2 separate regions of the Homo sapiens genome follow, and region 1 is linked to region 2. The links come from fine-mapping of genetic effects on gene expression. Tissue or cell type: testis. Region 2 holds a variant in brackets; the other region holds the start of a gene. All regions are shown on one strand. Distances are between the middles of the regions.

What was found. PIP is the estimated chance that this variant, and not a neighbour inherited with it, causes the effect.
Region 1: it holds the start of LINC00839, and the variant in region 2 is the best candidate, but not a certain one, in a credible set for the expression of LINC00839 in testis (GTEx, PIP 0.73).

The regions. Positions count from the first base shown.
Region 1 is chr10:42,473,560-42,477,807 of GRCh38, reverse strand. It overlaps LINC00839 (long intergenic non-protein coding RNA 839), which reads right to left and starts at 2,317. Exons shown (of 5, transcript NR_026827.1): 1 at 1,928-2,317; 2 at 366-547.
Region 2 is chr10:42,095,979-42,100,226 of GRCh38, reverse strand. No RefSeq gene overlaps it. Among named protein-coding and RNA genes, the nearest start is that of LINC00839, 380 kb to the left of the region's middle. The variant G/C (reference allele first, on the strand shown) is at 1,956.

The DNA.
Region 1 (4,248 bases), 380 kb before region 2:
AGCCAACGTGCCCGGCACCTCAACTTTTTTCTCAAGAATCAAGAAAGAAAAATCAAGTGCAAAGAATACAGGATGAAGGCAATAATAAAGATAACAAACATCAATGAAATGGAAAAAAAAACATAACACAAATAAACCAAGGCTAAAAGTTGTTTTTATAAACAACATAGTTAATAAACCACTAGCAAAACTGATTAAGGAAAAAAGATTAAAGAACACAAGAGACCAGTATCAGAATCAAAACAACAGCCTACGTAACAGTATTATAACAAGATAATCAGAGAATTTTGTGAAATTCTCCCCGGGAGGCCGAGACTCCTGCTTGTCCTTCCTCCGCTGCCGGCACCCCAGACTCCCGGACTCACCCTCGGCTGGGTTGCCGTCTTCTCCTTTCAGAGATGGATGCCACAGGTTCCGGGCTTCTTGGGCTCTGGGAGGACGCGCAGCGGAAGGCGAGGTCGCTATATGAGGCCGCTCCAAAGTCGCCTCGCGCTGTTGCTGCGTCACTGCCTCCAGCCTCCAGCATCCAGGGAGAGTGCAGGCAAAACTGATTAAGGAAAAAAGATGAAAGAACACAAGTGACCAGTATCAGAATCAAAACAACAACTCTACATAACAGTATTATAACAAGATAATCAGAGAATTTTGTGAAATACATATGATCAAAAGTCTGACAACAGAGATCGCAACAGATGCTGAACCCAACTTACTAAAACTGGCACAAAAATAGCATAAAATAAGAACACTCCTATATATATTAAACAAAATTAACTAACTAATTTTAAAAATCCAACAAATCAACAATAATGCTCCACAAGGAAAACACCAGGATCAGACTTTGAAAATGTTCCAAATATTTAAGGAAGAAAAAAATATTGACACTGCTCACTCTCTCTCAAAGAGAAAGACGAAAGGGATGGTTTTTCAATTTGTTTCGAGAAGCCAGCATTACATTAATACACAATCTGATCAGACAATAAAAAACCCAGAAATAATAGATGTTCTGTTTCACAAACACAGATACAAATATTCTAAGAAAAATATTGTTACATGAACTAAACCAAGCAAGAAATTAAAACTGAAATTAAACAACAAAGACCAGAGTAGGAAACAACAACCTACAATAGAAATGAACCAATAAAGGACTAATCTCTAAAGTGTCTTTAAAAATGCTTCACATCAATGTAGGAAAAACACAAATGATCCAAGACAAAAAGAACACTATGAAGGAAAAAAAAGGGGGGTGCATGGGCGAATAAATATTTGCTAAGCCGTACTATGAAGAGGGTTATTTCCAGTTCCAGATGAGAGATACCCACAGGCAGCCCGGGGGGTGGGACCCCAGGGGACAGGACCCCCAGAAGGTGACAGAGATCCTGGCAGTGGGGGACCTGGGGCAGAAGGTGACCCCATCCTCTTCCCGGGCTGCCGCTCAAGGCTCCTGCCGCTCCCGGGCTCCAGCGCCCTCTCACCGGGTCCTGATCAGGGCTCCCTTTCTCACCCCGGGTCAGGCAGAAGGCCCCGGACCCCAGTCCCAAAAGAAACGGAGGCTGCAGGGCTTCCACGCAGGAGAGAAGGGGAGGGCTCCTCTCCGACCCGGGCTCCTTCAGCGCCCACCCCAGCGGACTCTGAGAGGGCGAGGAGGAGGTCGGGGGCTAGGTTCAAGCCGCACTGGGCCCCGGATTCAAGAAAGAAACGGGCTCCTGAGACGCCTGTGCATCAGAGGGGTCCTGGCTCGGCCTGGGATGGGGCTCGGGGAGAGTCAGACGATCTGCCAGGCTCCCAGCCTGAGGCCGCCCTCCCCGGCGCGCAACCCCCGCCCCCACCGCTGGGGCCCTCCTGCCTTTCCCGGCACGTCGCTCCCCGAGAGGCCGAGACTCCTGCCTGTCCTTCCTCTGCCGCCGGTATCCCAGACTCCCGGACTCACGCGCGGCTGGGTTGCCGTCTCCTCCTTTCAGGGCTGGACGCCACAGGTTCCAGGCTTCTTGGGTTCTGGGAGGAGGCGCAGCGGAAGGCGAGGTCGCTGCATGAGGCAGCTCCAAAGTCGCCTCGCCCTCGCGCTGTTGCTGCCTCACTGCCTCCAGCCTCCAGCATCCGGAGAGAGTGCAGGCAGGCGGCACCCAGTTCTCTTCCTTCTCCTCCTGCCCACGGCGGAGCAGCCTCCAGCATCCAGGGAGAGTGCAGGCACGTGGTGCCTGGCCCTCTTCTTTCTCCTCCTGCCCAGGGCGGAGCCATACAGACCACGCTGCCTGGAGCAGGGTGAAATGCGGAAAGCCCACGGAGCAACTATTTATAATGACTTATTTAACTAGATATCCTGTAAGGCATGTTCGGATTGGATGAGAGCCACTGTGCAAAACAACTCTGATTGGATAATATGACCCAATCAGGGCTGGCTGAAATGTTCCTTCTCGTCCTATCAGACTCAGGGTATAGATGCTGGGGTGGGGCAGGAGCCAGCGCCCCCACCGGAATTTGTGGCCACTTCGCCTTTGGCTTTGCCTCCTGCCATGCCCCGCAGGCCCGGAGAATGTGGCCCCAGACTGAAATGAGAAGAAGGTGGCCCCGCCGAGGGTGAGTCTGGGGAGGCTGGAGTGGGGGCTGTGAGGGGGTGCCCGGGCAGGAGTCTCGGCCTCCGCTGGGAGCAGCATATTCAGTGTGTAATGTGAATAACAGGCAAAATAGGTCTTAATTTTTTGTATTATTAGTGACAAAGACTTCCGGTCAACCGCAGGCCGTTAGGAGTTATGCTTTGGGGGAGTTGAGAGTTAAACTTGGATTTTTGACTGTGGGGGGTTAGCATCCATATCCCCCACATTGTTCAAGGGTCAGGTGTATTTTAGAGCACTGGCATGAATCACTTTGGGTCCCACTTGTTGAAAATAGGCATTGACATTTGGAGGCGCCTCCTTGTAGCGAGCAGGTACTACTGATCTCTCTCTTCCACGTACTGACCTTTCCCCAGCTTCTGTGGAACCCTGTTTCCTGGAGTTTACTTACATTCTTTAGTCAATTCTTCTCTAATTCTTCTGAAAGTGGATTTGGAGCAAGGGAAGAGAAACCTGCAGTCTTGGCTGTGTCCAGGTTTTGGTTCTGATTCTTGTGTGCGGTCCACATTCAGATTGGGGTCCTTAATGAAATCCATGGCTTCATCTCTCCTTGCATGCCAGCATCACCCAATCGTGTATAGTTAAACTCGAACTCCCTTTGCACCACAGACTCCCATCTCCAGGTGTTTAACAGGAATTGGATACTGAGCATGTGATATTTTTACCTAAACCTAAATACATCTTTTTTCCTTGTTTCCCTGTGTGCTTGTCCCCTGCCCAACCATCAGCACCACAAATCTAGACGCCTAAAATTCATCCACCTCCTTTGTAATGGCACCCAACCACCACATACAATCCTTTTAAATATCTCAGTTCTGTATTTGGAAAATTACACATTTTAACTGTCTTTTCACTTCATTGCCTTTCCATTACTCTAGGCCCTCATGGTTTCTTCACTGTTAGACTAATGAGCTATGAGTGTTTACCCTCCTAATCCTGCATACTCCTTAAAACCTCAGGCAGAAAATGGAAATTAAACTCGTGGGCATTCAAGGACACCCCCACGATTTTCAGGGTAAAGTTTTTATGGCTTAGCTTAATGCCCAACGACTTTCACATTCCTCTGTTGATAATTTCAATCTCTTGAAATTCTCTCAAACAAAAATAACTAACACTTGTTAACAACTTCGTGTTTCCAGGAAATACTTTAAGCAATTAAAGTCATAATTAAAGTAACATATGCAAAAACCCTATCAGTACTGCTTTTATACTTAAAGTTTTGTTTAAACGTAACCCTGTTTACTTGTTTATGTGTTGTCTATGGCTGCTCTCATGCTGCAGAGGTCGAGTAGAATATGGAATAGATGATGTGGACCACAGCTCCAAACATGTTTACTGTTTTGCCATTTTCAGGAAAAGTTGCTGGATGACTCCTAATCTAGTTGAATGTCTGTGTTACTAGTACAGGGAGATCCTTGCCAGCCAATGTCAGATAAACAAGTTGATTTTATGGACAATTTGTCTCATATATACAAGCACATTTCCAGTTTTTGTAACTGTTAACGATTTATTTTCCCACTTAGTTTGCTCCCTGTAACTTTGAGTGGCTCAACTATTCATCCTGTTTTGATTTCTTCATACCATTTACCCTCCTTCCAGATTATTTAATCAGGTGTTTTTATATTATACCTCAGCAGGG
Region 2 (4,248 bases):
CATTCCATTAGATGACTCCATTCGAGTCCATTCGATGATTCTCTTCGATTCCATTCGATAATTCCGATTGATTCCGTTTCATGTTGATTCCATTCGAGTCCATTCGATGATAATTCCATTCGATTCTATGCGATGATTCCATTCCTTTCCATTTGAAGATGATTCCATTCGAGACCATTCGATGATTGCATTCAATTCATTCGATGACGATTCCATTCAATTCCGTACAAGGATTCCATTAGATTCCATTTGATGATGATTCCATGCCATTCCATTAGATGATGACTCCTTTCATTTCCATTCAATGAGGATTCCATTCGGTTCCATTTGATGATGATTCCTTTGAATTCCATTTGATGACAATTCCATTCAATACCAATTGATGATGGTTATTTTTGATTCCATTTGATGATGATTACATTCGATTCCATTTGATCATGATTCCATTCGATTCAAATCGATGATTCCATTCGATTCCATTCAATGATGATTCCATTCGAGTTCATTGACTATTCCATTCCATTCCATTTGATGATTCCATTCGAGTCCATTCGATGATTCTATTCGATTGCATTCGATAATTCCAGTCAATTGCATTCGATAATTCCATTCTATTCCATTTGAGGATAATTCCATTTGAGTCCAATCGACGATTGATCCATTCGATTCTATTCGGTGATTCCATTGGATTCCATTTGGTAATGATTCCATTCGAGACCATTCGATGATTCCATTCAATTCCATGCAATGATGATTCCATTCGAGTCCATTCAATGATTCCAATCAAGTCCATTCGATGATTCCATGTGATTCCATTCAATGAAACCATTCAATCCATTCTGTGATGATTCCATTCATTTCCATTTGATCATGATTCCATTCGATTCCACTCGATGATTCCATTCGATGCCATTCAATGATGATTCCATTCGATTCCATTTGATCATGATTCCTTTCGATTCCACTCGATGATTCCATTCGATTCCATTCAATGATGATTCCATTCGAGTTCCTTGACTATTCCATTCCATTCCATTCGATGATTCCATTCGAGTCCATTCGATGATTCTATTCGATTGCATTCGATAATTCCATTCGATTGCATTCGATAATTCCATTCAATTCCATTTGAGGATAATTCCATTTCAGTCCCTTCGGTGACTGTTCCATTCGATTCTATTCGGTGATTCCATTTGATTCCATTTGATAATGATTCCATTCGAGACCTTTGGATGATTCTATTTAATTCCATGCAATAATGATTCCATTCGAGTCCACTCAAGGAATCCATTCAAGTCCATTCGAGCATTCCATGTGATTCCATTCAATGAATCCATTCGATCCATTCTGTGATGATTCCCTTCATTTCCATCTGATGATGATTCCATTCGATTCCATTCAATGATTCCATCCGATTCCATTTGATGATGATTTCAATCAATTTCTTTCGATGACTCCATTCGAATCCATTCGATGATGAGTCCATCTATTTCAATTTCATGATAATTCCATTCGTTTCAATTCGATGGTGTTTCCATTCGATTCCATTCGTTGTTGATTCCATTAGTTTCCATTGGATGATGATTCCGTTCGAGTCCATTCGATGATGATCACATTGGATTTCATTCCATAATGCTATTCGATGCCATTTGATGATGATTCCATCGGGTTCCATTTGATGATTCCATTCGATTCCATTCGATGATGATTCCATTCGTTTCCATCCGGTGATGATTCCGTTCGCTTCAGTTCAATGTTTATTCCATTCGAGTCCATTTGACGATTCCATTCGATTCCATTTGATGATGATTGCATTCGATTCCATGGATTTTTCCATTCTATTTCATTAGATGATTCCATTCGAGTCCATTCGATGATTCTCTTCGATTCCATTCGATAATTTCGTTTGATTCCGTTTGATGTTCATTCCATTTGAGTCCATTCGATGATAATTC[G/C]ATTCGATTCCATGCGATGATTCCATTCCATTCCATTTGAAGATGATTCCATTCGAGACCATTCGATGATTGCATTCAATTCATGCGATGACGATTCCATTCAATGCCGTTCAATGATTCCATTAGACTCCATTCGATTCCATTTGATGATGATTCCATGCGATTCCATTAGATGATGACTCCTTTCATTTCCATTCGATGATGATTCCATTGGTTTCCATTCGACGATGATTCCATTCGATTCCGTTCAATGATTATTCCATTCGAGTCCAGTCGATGATTCCATTCGATTCTATTCGATGATGATTGCATTCGTGTCCATGGATTATTCCATTCCATACCATTAGATGATTGCATTCGTGACAATTCGATGATTCTCTTCTATTCCATTCGATAATTCCGTTTGATTCCGTTTGATGTTGATTCCATTCGAGTCCATTCAATGATAATTCCATTCGATTCTATGCAATGATTCCATTCCTTTCCATTTGAAGATGATTCCATTCGAGACCATTCGATGATTGCATTCAATTCATTCGATGACGATTCCATTCAATTACGTTTAAGGATTCCATTAGATGCCATTTGATGATAATTCCATTCAATTCCATTTGATGATGATTCCATGCCATTCCATTAGATGATGACTCCTTTCATTTCCATTCAATGAGGATTCCATTCGGTTCCATTTGATGATGATTCCTTTGAATTCCATTTGATGACAATTGCATTCAATACCAATAGATGATGGTTATTTTTAATTCCATTTGATGATGATTACATTCGATTCCATTTGATCATGATTCCATTCGATTCCACTTGATGATTCCATTCGATTCCATTCAATGATGATTCCATTCGATTCCATTTGATCATGATTCCATTCGATTCCACTCGATGATTCCATTCGATTCCATTCAATGATGATTCCATTCGAGTTCCTTGACTATTCCATTCCATTCCATTCGATGATTCCATTCGAGTCCATTCGATGATTCTATTCGATTGCATTCGATAATTCCATTTGATTGCATTCGATAATTCCATTCGATTCCATTTGAGGATAATTCCATTTGAGTCCCTTCGATGATTGTTCCATTCGATTCTATTTGGTGATTCCATTCGATTCCATTTGATAATGATTCTATTCGAGACCATTGGATGATTCCATTTAATTCCATGCAATAATGATTCCATTCGAGTCCATTCAATGATTCCATTCAAGTCCATTCGATCATTCCATGTGATTCCATTCAATGAATCCATTCGATCCATTCTGTGATGATTCCCTTCATTTCCATCTGATGATGATTCCATTCGATTCAATTCAATGATTCCATCCGATTCCATTTGATGATGATTTCAATCAATTTCATTCGATGACTCCATTCGAATCCATTCGATGATGAGTCCATCCATTTCAATTTCATGATAATTCCATTCGTTTCCATTCGATGGTGTTTCCATTCGATTCCATTTGATGTTGATTCCATTAGTTTCCATTGGATGATGATTCCGTTCGTGTCCATTCGATGATGATCACATTGGATTTCATTCCATAATGCTATTCGATGCCATTTGATGATGATTCCATCTGATTCCATTTGATGATTCCATTCGATTCCATTGGATGATGATTCCATTCGTTTCCATCCAGTGATAATTCCATTCGATTCCCTTAAATGTTTATTCCATTCGAGTCCATTCGACGATTCCATTCGATTCCATTTGATGATGATTGCATTCGATTCCATGGATTTTTCCATTCTATTTCATTAGATGATTCCATTCGAGTCCATTCGATGATTCTCTTCGATTCCATTCGATAATTCCGTTTGATTCCGTTTGATGTTCATTCCATTTGAGTCCATTCGATGATAATTCCATTCGATTCTATGCGATGATTCCATTCCATTCCATTTGAAGATGATTCCATTTGAGACCATTCGATGATTGCATTCAATTCATTCGATGACGATTCCATTCAATGCCGTTCAATGATTCCATTAGATTCCATTCGATGATGATTCCATTCGATTCCATTTGAGGATTCCATGCCATTCCATTAGATGATGACTCGTTTCATTTCCATTTGATGATGATTCCATTGGTTTCCATTCGACGATGATTCCATTCAATTCCGTTCAATGATTATTCCATTCGAGTCCATTCGATGATTCCATTCGATTCTATTCGATGATGATTGCATTTGGGTCCATGGATTATTCCATTCCATACCATTAGATGATTGCATTCGTGGCAATTCGATGATTCACTTCGATTCAATTTGATT